4 linked regions of the Homo sapiens genome follow. The protein of the gene in region 3 interacts with the protein of the main gene of each other region in a biochemical or structural test. Each region holds a gene or a part of one and is shown on either strand. Other genes may lie near its edges.

Evidence for each region.
Region 1: the proteins of RAPGEF6 (region 3) and HTR2A interact in a test that uses a peptide from one of them, tested with the Homo sapiens proteins (one large-scale study listed by IntAct).
Region 2: the proteins of RAPGEF6 (region 3) and PLEKHG7 interact in a test that uses a peptide from one of them, tested with the Homo sapiens proteins (one large-scale study listed by IntAct).
Region 4: the proteins of RAPGEF6 (region 3) and SLC26A3 interact in a test that uses a peptide from one of them, tested with the Homo sapiens proteins (one large-scale study listed by IntAct).

The regions. Positions count from the first base shown.
Region 1 is NC_000013.11:46,890,554-46,894,053, forward strand, and holds part of HTR2A (5-hydroxytryptamine receptor 2A), read right to left. Parts: intron 2,038-3,500; coding exon 1,837-2,037; intron 1-1,836. UniProt on the Homo sapiens protein: G-protein coupled receptor for 5-hydroxytryptamine (serotonin).
Region 2 is NC_000012.12:92,705,989-92,709,488, reverse strand, and holds part of PLEKHG7 (pleckstrin homology domain-containing family G member 7), read right to left. Parts: intron 3,019-3,500; coding exon of another isoform or gene 2,858-3,018; coding exon 2,351-2,857; coding exon of another isoform or gene 2,336-2,350; exon of another isoform or gene 1,840-2,335; coding exon 1,817-1,839; coding exon of another isoform or gene 1,774-1,816; exon of another isoform or gene 940-1,773; intron 1-939.
Region 3 is NC_000005.10:131,628,730-131,632,229, forward strand, and holds part of RAPGEF6 (rap guanine nucleotide exchange factor 6), read right to left. Parts: intron 1-3,500. UniProt on the Homo sapiens protein: Guanine nucleotide exchange factor (GEF) for Rap1A, Rap2A and M-Ras GTPases. Does not interact with cAMP.
Region 4 is NC_000007.14:107,768,724-107,772,223, forward strand, and holds part of SLC26A3 (chloride anion exchanger), read right to left. Parts: intron 3,386-3,500; coding exon 3,331-3,385; intron 1-3,330. UniProt on the Homo sapiens protein: Mediates chloride-bicarbonate exchange with a chloride bicarbonate stoichiometry of 2:1 in the intestinal epithelia. Plays a role in the chloride and bicarbonate homeostasis during sperm epididymal maturation and capacitation.

The DNA of each region.
Region 1 (3,500 bases), on a different chromosome or scaffold from region 3:
GCTGATTTTCTTTAAGGGGCTTTGTATACTACTGGGTCCGTACTCAGTGCTCAGAAACTGTTACCTTACTACTGGTGTTATCATGAAGCCTGAATGAGATGGGGGAGTCAGTGTGGCTGAGGAAAAGATGGTTGACCTTCCCAGCATTTGTCTCACCAATGGCACAGTATATTGGGGTAAAACTATGGACAGTGTATCAGGGTAAAAATAAATAGCTTCATTTGCTCCCTCTGCATTAATCTTGATTCTCCTACTTATCACGCTGACCACCCTGAAAACCTGTCTCAGTGGTCTTCAACTCTGACTGCCCCTTAGAATCACCTGGCCTCACCCTAGGCAATTAAATCAGAATGTTCCCAGGGGCATTTTATGTGTAATTGGGATTGAGTGGTTACTGGCCCTTCACTTTCTTGCTCTTAGTAGAATGAGTCCAACTTGCACAGTCCCAGAAACTACAAGCATTTTCTAGGAGCAAAAACTGTTTCCTAAGGAAGGTACAGAAAGAACAGGGCATGGTGCTGGAAGTTTAGAGTCCTAGTCCTGCTGCAAGTTGGAGACATGATCCAGTAAGCCACAATACCTCTGTATTCTGGTTTCCTCATTTATCAAATAAGCACCATAGAATCTTCTATCTCAAACGGTAATGGGAAATTTAAAATAGGAAGTAGGTAAGACTTTTTAAACATTTGAAAGTGACACAAGTGTGATTTGTTAGTGTTTCCATCAGATGTTCCCATCAGAATTCAATAAAATCCTTGTTGTGCTACTTACTGGCTGTGGGGCTTTGCACAGCTCATTTTGCTTTTTGAATCCCAGTTTTTCCTCATCTATAAGATGGAGCTACTTACTCTTCAAATTGCATAATAGTTCCCATTGCTAGCAGCAAAGAAAACAATGGGAACTAAAATACACAAGATATAGTATTATTGTGTTGGCTCTTATTATTGGTACTATTATTCCAATGCTGTGGATAAGCTCACTCAAGCCCTTGATTTCAAGCGGTGGAATCTCATAGTCTCTCATATTAGCGGATGCTGGCACTGGCGTGGCCATAAACAGGTGCAACACTCCTGCCTGCTAAGCTTTTGGATTTTAAAATGAATGTCAGAGAATCTTTGGTTACCAACCAAGCTGCTGAGGTTGACAGGTACAATTCACTTCACTGCCTGAGACCCGCCCCCTTAGCTTCCATTACCTGGGCTTTTCTGACTATTAGGTGTGTGACAGAAGATCAATACTGGCGAGAGATGAATATATGTAATCAACCTAACAGAAGCAAGTTGAAATCCTTTGGTGTGTGGTATCATAAAAGGAGGAAGGTCAATAGGGACACTGGGTCGGACTGAAAAGCAGCCTTGCCCCAAAGCAAATCCTGGCACTTTCCTCTGGCCCACCTTTTCCCTCCAAGCTACAGCACATGGTACCTTTCTCTAGAGCCCAGAGGCTTTATGTTCTCTAGCAAAGTGGTCTGCATCCTTACGTTGATCATAAGTTCAGTGATTATAAAAGTTGAGGTCTTTGGGAAACCCAAGAATTAGAGTCGTGGACTTGAAAGTAAGAAATAGGGAAAACAGCACAGTTATTTCTGACTTTTTGGCTCTACTGTTTATAGTTTTGCCTGTGCAAAGCAATACAAATTCATGTTGTCAGCCAGTGACATAAACAGATTTTTCTTTCCTGAAGCGAATCTGATAATTATGATGTTGTAACATATCTTGCACCACCCAAAACAGTAGATTGAGGATGTCAGGTTTCAGTACAACAAAATGGAACAAGTCTTTTCAGAAAGCACGAACTGTCATTTCAAATGAGACTCTGAAATATGTTGCCACTTACCTACTGATATGGTCCAAACAGCAATGATTTTCAGAAATGCCTTAGTTCTGGAGTTGAAGCGGCTGTGGTGGATGGGATTCTGGATGGCGACGTAGCGGTCCAGCGAGATGGCGCAGAGGTGCATGATGGAGGCCGTGGAGAAGAGCACGTCCAGGTAAATCCAGACTGCACAAAGCTTGCTCGGCAGAGGCCACCGGTACCCTATGAGGCAGAAGGTTGGTGTCAGTGAGCAACCCTGTGCCTCCTGGAGCACATGTATCCCTATCCTATGACAATTTCCAGCTCTGGGACAGGCACAGGTGGTGGCAAAGGGCAACACAATATATTTTTAGTATTTGAAAAAAGCCCACTGGCAACTGTACTTAACTATGATAAGCTAGCACTGGCTGATGAATGCAGGGTTTGAAAATTTCTAGTGTCTGGAGTTATGTGAGTGTGGCACGGTAAGCTTGGATGGTCTCTATTTGGGGGTTCTCTTTCTTCCCCCTTACGCCTGGCAAAACATTTCTTTTGTTAATGGCTTATGTCAAAATTTGTGTTTTGGCTCCTCTTCTGGAGCACCTCTCACACTGTACTGTCAGGATTTAGTCACATATTTCTCTGGATTGTATTTCCCTAAGGTTAGTCTCACCTCTTAGTCATTATTATAACCATCCAGTCCCATACAGTGATGGCAATAAATTGCATTAGTGCAAATGACTAAATGACTAAAAATTCAGATTGTGAATATGTCTGTTTGTAAAAATGAAAAATAATGATCTAATAATGCTTTGGGTGCCAAACTCAAATTTGGGGTATGTGTAGGGAGAGCTGAAGACAAGGGTGAAGAAAAATAAAGAAAGGTGTCCTTGCTCTGAGCTTTGTTTTAGGGAGGCATTTCTCAAACTTTAGTGAGCATCAGACTCTGCCACACCTCTTAAAACACACACTGCTGGACCTCCGTCCAGAGGTTCTGATGCAGTTAGTAGGGAGCAGGCTGTAGAATTTGCATCTGAATTAGCAAGCTCCCGGGTGATGCTGATGCTGCTGGTCCAGGGACCACGCTTTGTGAATAGCTGCTTTAGGGTAGTGGCTCTCACCCCTGGCTGCACATCAGTATCAGCTGGAGAGCTTTAGAGAAGGTCCTGATGCCCATGCCAAACCCAGCCCAATTAAATCATGTTTGGAGGGTGGGCTGAGGTGGACATCAAATGTCAAAGCGTTTGCAAAGCTTTTTCCAAGCTCCCCAGACAATTCCAATGTAAGAGATACTGCAGGTCACCTGCTATATGAGGAAGGTTAGAGTGTGCTTTATGGACATAAACAAAGTGTCCTGGTTTTGTGTTTTGGAGGGGGATTAAGCAGTTATGTAAACCTTAATTAGTTTTGATCACAGTATAAGCAGCGGAGTTAGATCTGCCTGCATGTAAGAAGGAAAATTTTAAAGTCCACTTTTCTTATTACAGACCCACAAAGCCGAACAAACTCCAACGCAAACGTACACTCTCTACCAAAATGCCACAAGGGATATTTAGACAAGTAAAGGGCGTAGGTACAAGCCTAATTTACAGCCATTCACATGTATTATTTGCAAAGAGCTTGAGCCGAAAGGAAAGCCTTTTCCTTTGCAGCGCCTTATGGGGGAAGCCACGCTCTGTCTGTTCGGAACAGATGTCGGCCCTCGG
Region 2 (3,500 bases), on a different chromosome or scaffold from region 3:
TCTCCACTTAGATGTTTCATAGTTCCTCAAACTCAACATGTCCAAACCTGAACACAAGACCTACACTCTAACCACTCATATTTAATTTCTTTACCCAAGTTTATCTAGGTCAGTGAATGGACACCTTGGTTACCCAGTTGAACAAGCCAGAAGCTTGGAGGTCATTCTTGAAGATTCCTTTCCCTCACCCTGATAGGCTACCATTCACAAAGTCTGGGGGATTGTATCTCCTAAATATCTCTTGCATTGAGATACTTCTTTTTAACCCCACTGCCTTCATCATAATCTAACTTAACAACTTCTCATACCTGAACATTCGAATTATTTGACTCAAGTCTACTTGCATCTAAATCCCAGGTATATCTGACATCCATCTGATCATATCAATTCATCAAATGGTTTCACACTGCTCTTAGGGTAAGGAATAAAATTTCTCAAAATCTTATTAAAATAATTCGACTCTAAACATAATTTTTTTTTCTAAGACTACCCTTTTCCACTTTCTTTGACACAACTGAACTAGATCTCATCTGAGAGCTTTATTCTGTTTCACATGTATGGAAGATTTACATTAACAGCCCCACTCTTCCCCATTCCTTACATCCATACACTTTGCCATGTAACATTTCAATGCTCTCCCACTGTTGGTAACATGTAATTCCCTGACGCTGAGTTCAACTGAGTGACTTGCTTTGGTCAATAAAATTAGACCAGATTCAGAGCCCAGGCTCCAAGAGGCCTTGCATGTTTCTACTTGTCCTCTTGAACCTCTCCCTTCACTGTATAAAGAATCTGCTTAATTGATCCCATGGACCCATGGGAGCCCTTTGATCCCATGAGCAGGATAAGGAACATTTGGAGTGGAACTGCTCAGCTAAACCCAGCCTAGACCAAGTCACCCCCAGGGAACACAGAGATTTATAAGAAACAATAACTGTCTGTTACTTTAAGTGGTTTTTTATCTAGCAACAGCTAGCTGATACACAGACATAACAATTTGCATTTCCCTATGGCTTGGTAAGTATCTTCTACCTTTGTTGGTACAATTAGGCCAACAAGGATTAAAATCAACAAAGAATGTGTACATGGATGTTATCCTTACTGCTATGAATATCAAACTATTGCTTGAGGATTGAGGTCCAGTAATAAAACAGCAGCTATTTCTCCAAAAAAATCCTCTGTGACTTTTCAAATGAAATGAGGGCTTTCCTGCCAATCCCACAAGTCAGGAAGATAAAATTGGGCATGGATCTTTCCCTTGCTGCTGCAGAAACTCTTCATCCCTGTCAGAGATGGCAGATCCATTGCTACAACCAGGGGGCCGTGCTGAAAGTTCAGAGCTGGTTTTGGAAATGACACAGTCTACTTCATTCTGGATAAGGGCACAGTCTGTCATAACAGGTTATTTTAAAGGTCACCCTAGATTTAACCAGGACATCTTGTTCCTTTCTTTTATCCTCCAAATTTTTCTTTGAAAAGCTGTTGCATATCTCTGGCCTTTCTATTTTCTCTACCAGACAAAACCTATTACTAAGTGGATGTTAATTAAGCCACAGGGCCAAGACATTGACAATTCAAAATGAAAACTATGACTGCATATGGCATTGTATCCTGCCCCCAAATGCTGTGCTCTTAAAGGGAGACTCTTGAAATGAAAACTCGTGCACCTATAAATGCGAAGAGTGACTTGAGTGCTATAAAACAAAGTGCACTGGTTAACACACCGTCAGCTTTGTTATGTCAGGACAGAAATAAAAATCTAATAGTAAATAGTCAACAGATGTCATAGCACCGGAGAAAATAAATGCATACACACCTGGATGGGTGCAATTCTTCTCCCTGAAATAAATTTTAAGAACATATGTTTTAGTCTTGCTCAAACCCATCCCAAACTCCAAAGCAAACATGTTGAAAGGAGAAACAATGAGCCCTCCTAGTTAAAACATGTTTTACATTTTGGTGGGATTGGAAATTTGAATAACTGGCTCTTTCTCCCCTTTTAAATCAGTGACACGACGTTGTCTTTAAATAGTGTGCATTTGCAAGAGGGCCCCCATTGCTCTCGGGTACCTGACAGACCATCGGTAAGCCTGGCCTTGGTGCATCCTTTCTCAAAGTGCCTCTAAGGACAGAAGAAAGTGAGCGAGATCATTTTCTTTCCTCCCCAGATTGCTGCCCTCCTTTCACTTAAGAGCCAATGCTTCCTAAAGAGAATGTGTCCCCTCAGTGTGACTTCCTGTGCTGTCTCCTTTTTAGGATCTACTGGCCCTTGGGGGAACTAAGCAACTCTGAGATCTATTTTGCTTTGTGGTTCAGCAACTGAGAGGCCGGAGGCTTAGAGCTGTGTTACCTGAGGACTAGGGTGTCGTAGGGTGGGGCTGGGCAGGAAGTGGCCTTCTTGCTGCCGAAGAGAGGCCTGGTGAAGGGACCCTTCATTGACAGGCTGAAGCTCAGGAGGGAGATACTTGTCAGTGGGCCGGGTTTGGGGCTCCAGTGAGTCAGCTGCATTCAGGGCCCTTTCAGGTTCAGAGGTCAATCTTGAGTGGAGTCTCAAGGGTGACAGCAAGTGTGAAGAATCCTTTGGGCTTCCTGGCAGGCTCTTCGAAAGGTAACATGGGAAGCCCACAGGAGCTCCCCAGCTTCCCCAGGTGGTCACCTGCCAGGCATCCTGCCTTGTCCCACAGCCACGGGTCCTTAATCTCCTCAAAGTGGGCGAGGTGGAGATGCGGCCTGGGGCTTGCCGGTCAAACTGGAGGAGACTCCCCTGGTTCTTTGGCAGGCTCCTCAGCGAGGGCCGAGGAGAGGCTCCACAGTCTTGGGGTGGCACCTCTGGACAGAATGACTCTGTTTTCTCCATAAAGCTAAGAGGTTCTACTGTTGGTAGAAGGTTCCAGAAGACGTATGAGTTGCTGTTCTCTGGATCACATGGAGGGTGCTCAATTTCTGCATCCAAGTGCCATGCTTCCTCTCGTAGTTCTTTTCCTTTTCCAGAGGAGAATGTCAAGCAGGTTATTGCATCTGTAGTGAGGAAGAGCAGACTGTGAAATATGTAGCAAATGAGGGAGACTGCAGTGAGAAAAAAGGTCTAAAATTTCAAAGGAAAACTTCTAATTCTTCATAGGCAATAGAGCTCAGTTCACATCAGCATCCTTTACGTTCAGAAGATAATTAATATACGTGACTCCAGCCTTCTCATCTAAATAGCGTATTGAAGTCTGTTTACTGTCTACTTAATATTCCTTCTAGGTTCAAACAAAAAAGCCTTTAAAAACTTTGGTAACTTAAGGTACTTCCTGGAAACCACATAGCTCCTCCCCTTGTGATTATTCCATTTTAAGAGAATCAAATATACATTAAATCCTCCTTATCATCTACATTTATGTATGTATGTACATATTGTGGTGCATTCTGGGGATGCAAGAACAAGGAAAACAAGCCTCCTTCCCTCAAGGTTTAAATTACAGAATGAGACAGGCTTTGAAGGTAACTGATGTAAAGTA
Region 3 (3,500 bases):
TTGAAGCCAATGATCATTTACCATTCTGAAAACCCTAAGGCCCTTAAGAATTATGTTAAATCTATTCTGCCTGTGCTCAGTAAATAAACAACAAAGCCTAAATGACAGCACGTTTGTTTACAGTATGGGTTAATGAATATTTTAAGTCCACTGATGAGACCCACTGCTCAGAAAAAAAGATTCATTTCAAAATACTACTACTCACTGACAATGCATCTTGTCACTCAAGAGCTCAGATGGAGGTACACAAGGAGATTAGTGATTTTTTTCAGGCCTGCTAATACAACATCCATTCTGTGGCCCATGGATCAAGGAAAAGTTTCAACCTTCAAGTCTTGTTATTTAAGAAACACATTTCATAAAGCTACAGCTGACATAGACAGTGATTCCCTAACAGATCTGTGAAAAGAAAATTGAAAACTGTCTTGAAATGATTCATCATTCCAGATGCCATTAAAACCATCTGTGGGCCAGGCATGGTGACTCACGCCTGTAATCCCAACACTTTGGGAGGCTGAGGTGGGAGGATCACTTGAGCCTAGGAGTTCAAGACCAGTCCAGGCAATGTATTGAGACTATCACTTAAAAGAAAAAAAAAATTGTGAAGCATGGGAGGAGGTCAAAATATCAACACTAACAGGAGTTTGAAAGAGGTTGAATCCAACCTTTATGAATGACTTTGAAGGGTACAACACTTCAGTGAAGGAAGCAACTGCATGTGTGGTAGAAATAGCAAGAGAACTAGAATTAGAAATAGAGCCTGGGCTGGCTCCCAGCACTTTGGGAGGCTAAGGTGGGAGGATTGCTTGGGCCCAGGAGTTCAAGATCAACCTGGGCAACATAGCAAGGCCTCGTCTCTACAAAAAAAAAAAAAAAATCAGCCACGCATGATGGCATGCACCTGTAGTACCAGCTACTCAGGAGGCTGAGGTGGGGTCACTTGAGCCTGGGAAGTAGAGGCTGCAGTGGGCTGTGATTACGCCACTGCACTCCAACCTGGGCAACAGAATGAGATCTTGTCTCAAAGAAAAAGAAAAAAAAAAAAAAGGAAAGAAAAAAAAAAGAAATGAAGATGGAGCCTGAAGGTGTGACTAAATTGCTGCAATCTCATGATAAAACTTGAGTAGATGAGAAGCTGCCTCTTATGCATTAGTAAAAAAAGTGGTTTCTTGAGACAACCTGCTCCTGGTGAAGATGATGTACATATTGTTCAAATGACAACAAAGAATTTAGAATACCACATAAGCTTAAGCTTAGTTGATAAAGCAGCAGCAGAATTTGGGAGGACTGACACCAATTTTGAAAGAAGTTACTGTAGGTAAAATGCTATCAAACAGCATCACATGCTAAAGAGAAATCTTTCATGAAAGAAAGTCAATTGATGTGGCAAACTTCATTGTCTTATTTTAAGAAACTGTCACAGCCACCCCAATCTTCGGCAACTACCACCCTGATTGGTCAGCAGCAGCTATCAACACTAAGGCAAGACCCTCCACCAGCTAAAAGATGACAACTAGCTGAAGGCTCAGATGACTGGTTAGTATTTTTTAGCAATAAAGTATTTTTAAATTAAGGCATATATCTTTTTTTAGACATAAGGCTATCACACACAATAAACTACTATATGTGTAAACAACTTTTATGTGCACTAGGAAATAAAATTCACGTGACTCACTTTATTGGGATATTGGCTTTACTGCAGTAGTCTGGAACCAAACCTGCAGTATCTGGGAGGTATGTCTGTACCTTAACAGTTTTTGTTGTTTTAGTGCACTTAATTGTCCATGGAGTATTTAAGTCTGAAATTTTCCATAAGAATATCTTTGCAAATTGAGAAAGAACTAGCTCAGGAAAGACAATGTTCTGTGGAAGCTGAATCTATAAGTAGGAGAAATCTCTCACACACACACTGTGTTAGAAAGATATCTAAATGGCACACTTTACAACATGTGTCTGTACTTGATGTCTGGCTCACTAGGATTATGCCTGAGTTGATAGTTTCACCTAAGGACGACAGATGGTTCAAAATAAAGGAACCATTCATTTTGTCCCAGAAACACAAGGAGTTCTTTACTCATTATTTACTCATCAATTACACGATGCAAACAAATGATTTCAACATACTAATTCTCATCCCTTTGTATATTTTTCACAACGCTTTGCACCCAGTAGGTATTCAAGGAAAAATAAGCCAAACAAATAATTTTATCCCCTTCTATTTTACAGCTTATTAATTTGGCTTCTAGGGCACCACCACTCTCTCGGTTTTTCTCCTACTGCACTGTTTGCTTCCACTCATTCTCCTTTGCTGATTTCTACTCTTCTCCCCGACCTTATACTGATCTCATGTCCCATGGTACTCACTGTCCTTGGTCCTCTTCTATTCTCTACGTACACTCACTACTTGGTAATTTTACCCAGTCTCATGACTTTCAATATCTATAAACTGATGACTATAAAATTGTTATCTCCAGCTCAGGCTTCTTAGTAATACAAATTTGTATATGCAACCTCTTACTCATTTCTAACAGACATTTCAAACTTGACATGTTCAAAACTGAATTTCTGATCTTGCCCCTAAAACCTACTCCTCCTGCAGCTTTTCCCATCTCGCTGATGGCAGCTCAAACCTCTCTGACAATAACTCCAACACTCCAGTTATTTAGGCCAAAAACCTTGAAGTCATGCTTGATTCTTCTCTTTTCCTCAAGGTCCACATCTGATCTATTAGCAAATCCTGTTGGCTAACCCTACAAAATATTTCTAAAACTTAACCACTTCTCACCACTTCCATTACTATCACTATCACTTTAGTCAGAGTGACCATCATCTCTAACCTGATTTTATGCAATAACAGCCGTTAACCTCCTGCTTTTGCCCTTAAACACCTACAGTCTATTCTCAACACAGCAGCCAGGAGACTACCCAGTAAGGTAGTCAGGTGTAGTGGCACATGCCTGTAGTTCCAGCTACTTGGGAGGTTGAAGCAGGAGAATCTGTTGAGCCCAGAAATTAGTGACCAGACTGGGCAATATAGTGAGACCCTCTTTAAAAACAAAAAGGTAGGCCAGGCGTGGTGGCTCACGCCTGTAATCCCAGCACTTTGGGAGGCCAAGGCGGGCAGATCACGAGGACAAGAGATTGAGGCCATCCTGGCTAACACGGTGAAACCCCATCTCTACTAAAAACACAAAAAATTAGCCGGGCGTGTTGGCACACACCTGTAGTCCCAGCTACTCAGGAGGCTGAGGCAGGAGAATCGCTTGATCTCAGGTGGCAGAGATTGCAGTGAGCCCAGACTGCACCACTGCACTCCAGCCTGGGTGACAGAGCAAGACTCTGTCTCAAAAAAAAAAAAAAAAAAAAAGGTTAAGTAGGTCAATATCACTCCTCTGCTTCAAAATCTTTCAGTGCTCCCCCTCACTGAAAAGTCAAATAGGATGTGCCCTATGCTATGCATCATTATCTCCACTCCTCCTTCATCTCTTACTACTCTCACA
Region 4 (3,500 bases), on a different chromosome or scaffold from region 3:
TATGAAAATTCTGAGAAATTTTCCTCTTGGTGGGTATCTGGGAAAACTTGAGCAGATACCGTCTAAACGTGCCTAGGATTTGCAGAAAAGTGGAGGAAGAGAAGGTACACAGTTATGAAGATGGATTCTTCTGTTTACAGAAAGCTTTCAGTGACAGAGGGAGAGGGAGCGTGGAGGGCATTGTGGCCACCAGGATCTGGGATGGAGTGGGTGGCATGCAATGGGAAGGAAGGTGATAATCTTTGATAAAGACTGAAAAGAATGCCAGGCAGCAGAGACAGCAGGAACAGATACTTTCCAAAATATCTGGGATGATGAGGAAAGGGTAAAATTGTTAGTAAATTAAAGGTTTCTGGGATCAAGGGGATGTTTTTAATTATAAGGAAGCCTTGACAATGGTTGAACTAATTTTCACTCCCACCAACAGTGTATAAGCACAGTGTGGCGATTCCTCACAGGGCTGAAGACAAAAATACCATTTGACCCAGCAATTCCATTACTGGATATATACCCAAAGGAATATAAATCATTCTTTTATAAAGACGCATGCATGCATACATTGATTGCTGCACTATTCACAATAGCAAAGACATGGACTCAAATGCCCATCAGTGATAGACTGGATAAAGAAAATGTGGTACATATACACCGTGGAATACTATATAAAAACATATAAAAAAATTAAAAAAAAACAATATCCTTTGCAGGTACATGGAGTTGGAGGCCATTATCCTTAGCAAAGTAATGCAGGAACAGAAAACCAAATACTGCATATTCTCACTTATAAGTGGGAGCTAAATGATGAGAACGTATGGACACATGGAGGGGAACAACCCACACTGGGGCCTATCGGAGGGTGAAGGGTGGGAGGAAGGAAAGGATCAGGAAAAGTAACTAATGGGTGCTAGGCTTAATATCTGGGTGACAAAATAATCTATACAATAAACCCCCATGACACGAGTTTACCTATGTAACAAACCTGCATGTGTACCCCTGAACTTAAAAGTTTTTTTTAAAAGTCTTGAAACTAGAATATGTCTGTATATTTTAGGGACAGGATCCAGTAGAAAGGGAGAGATTAAGGATGCCAATTTTATACTTTTCGAAGGATATGTGTACCACTTGTCTCCTCTCCCTAAAAAGCTCCCCCTAAGTACTGTCAAGGTTGACTGCCTCACTTCGTTCTAGTCTGTACTCAAAATGTCATATTGCTGGACATCCCTGATCACCAGTTTTTCTTTCTGCCTCCCTCCCTCCCTTCCTTCCTTCCTTTTTTCTCTTTCTTTCTTTCTTTCTTTCTTTCTTTCTTTCTTTCTTTCTTTCTTTCTCTTTTCTTTCTTTTTCTTTCTCTCTTTTTTCTTTCTTTCTTTCTTATTTCGTCTTTCTTCTTTCTTCTTTCTCTTTCTTTCTTTCTCTCTTTCTTTTCTTTCTTTTTTTTTTTTTTTTTTTTTTTTTTTTAAAAAAAAAAAGGGGTTTTTTTTTTTTTTTTTTTTTTTTTTTTTTTTTTTTTTTTTTTTTTTTTTTTTTTTTTTTTTTTTTTTTTTTTGATTTGAGACAGGGTCTTGCTCTGTCACCCAGGCTAGTGTGCAGTGGCACGATCACAGCTTACCGCAGCCTTGACCTCCCAGGCTCAAGCGATCCTTCCATCTCAACCTCCTGAGTAGCTGGGACTACAGGCACATGCCACCACACCCAGCTAACATTTTTTTTTTTTTTTAGAGACGAGGTTTCACCATGTTGCCCAGGCTAGTCTCAAACGCTGGGGCTTAAGTGATCTGCCTGCCTCAGCTTTCTGGAGTGCTAAGATTACAGGCATGAGCCACCGCTCCCAGCCTCTGTTTCTTAACTCTGCTTTTCTCTTAGCACTTATCACTACCTGAAATATGCTTTTGTTTGTTTATTATGTGGCTTTTCTATGAGACTATAAGCTTCATGAGGACAGAGGCTTGTCAGATTCACTGCTATATTCCCAGCACCCAGAACTGTGCCTGATAAATAGTAGGTATTCAATAAGTCTTTACTGAATGCCCATCATGTCCTAGGATCTAGGGAAGAGACAGGAAGAAGGTAAGCAGGAACAATACCTGCCCTGGAAGAGATATAGTCTAGTAGGGACAGAAACTGAACTGCAAAATTATGTGATACGTGCGTACTCTGTAGATACAAACAGTCTGAAGACCCGGTGCTCTGCCTGGGGAAGCAAGGATGTTTTCAGTTATTGTCGGAAAAATTCCTGAAGAAGGCTTCTTTCAGAAAATGGGATGGGAGAGCATTATAGGGATGGGCAAGGATATTAGTTAGAAAGTCCTTCTAGAAGGCCTAGTTGAGAAGTGAGAAGGGTCTAGATTAAAGTTCTGGAAATGGAGAGGAAGAGACTGATTTAAGAGGAAATATTTATAGGACCTGGTCATTGACTAGAGGGAAGGAGAGCAGAAATTGGTGATGGTTTCAGGGTTTCTATCTGGAAAACTAGGTAAGCAGTGATGCAGTGATTGTGATAGGAAAGAAGTATTTTTGGGAGGGGGAATCATATACGTAGTTCTAAAAGCGTGTATCTGAGGTGCCTGGGGACATCCACAGTCGAGTCCATTGGTCTGCAGCTTAGAAGAAAGGCCTGGGCTGGAGGTATAGTTTGGGGATTCATTAACAAGTAGATGCACATGAAATCATAAACATGTAGGAAATTGACTAGAAAGAGTCTGTGGAATTAGAACTATGGTATAGAGTGTACGGTTGAAGCTTGGGGGAGACTGAAAGTGGGAGAAGAACCAATGTCAGACCCTGAGGAGATGTTTGAGAGGTAGGAGGTGAATAAGAACTGTCCTGCCAGAGTCAGGGAGGGAGAGAGTTTCAAAGACAAATGCTAGAGAGAGTGCCAGATGCTCAGGTAAGCTGCTGCAGAAGGACCTGAGATGAAGGCCGTTAATCCTAACAATCTGGACATCGCTGATAACCTTGGCAAGGATGGTCTCATCAGCAGGTGAAGCTCAACCAAATTGTTATGGGCTGGATTGTGCAAGGGAAGGGAGGAAGAGAGACAGAAAACAAGGCTACCTTTTCAGGAAGTTTAGAGTGAAAAATAGTTAACATGTTCCTCCTTTGTTGCCTATGAAATCAGGATTCAAATTGTAGAATGTATTTAATTACATATCAACATAACTAAAATACAAAGATGCTGTTTCCATAGGGATTTTTATTGGGCTGGCTGCATATTAGATTTTCATCATGATTATATAAAATACTCATTCTTTGGAGAGGCTGTCTAGACTGAGAGTTGGCAGTGAGCCTGAAGTGATTGTCAGAACATAAAACAAAAATAAAGCCACTTACCATCAGTTCCAACGATATACACATCTACCTTGATCCTGATAAATTCTTGCAAAATCTGTTAAAAAGAAAAGTATATCTTCCTTAGGGAACAGTTTCACTTGTCAGAAATATAAAGAAAACAATCAGAATTATACCTTACGGGTGATATATTCCTTTTAGAAGCTTTAACA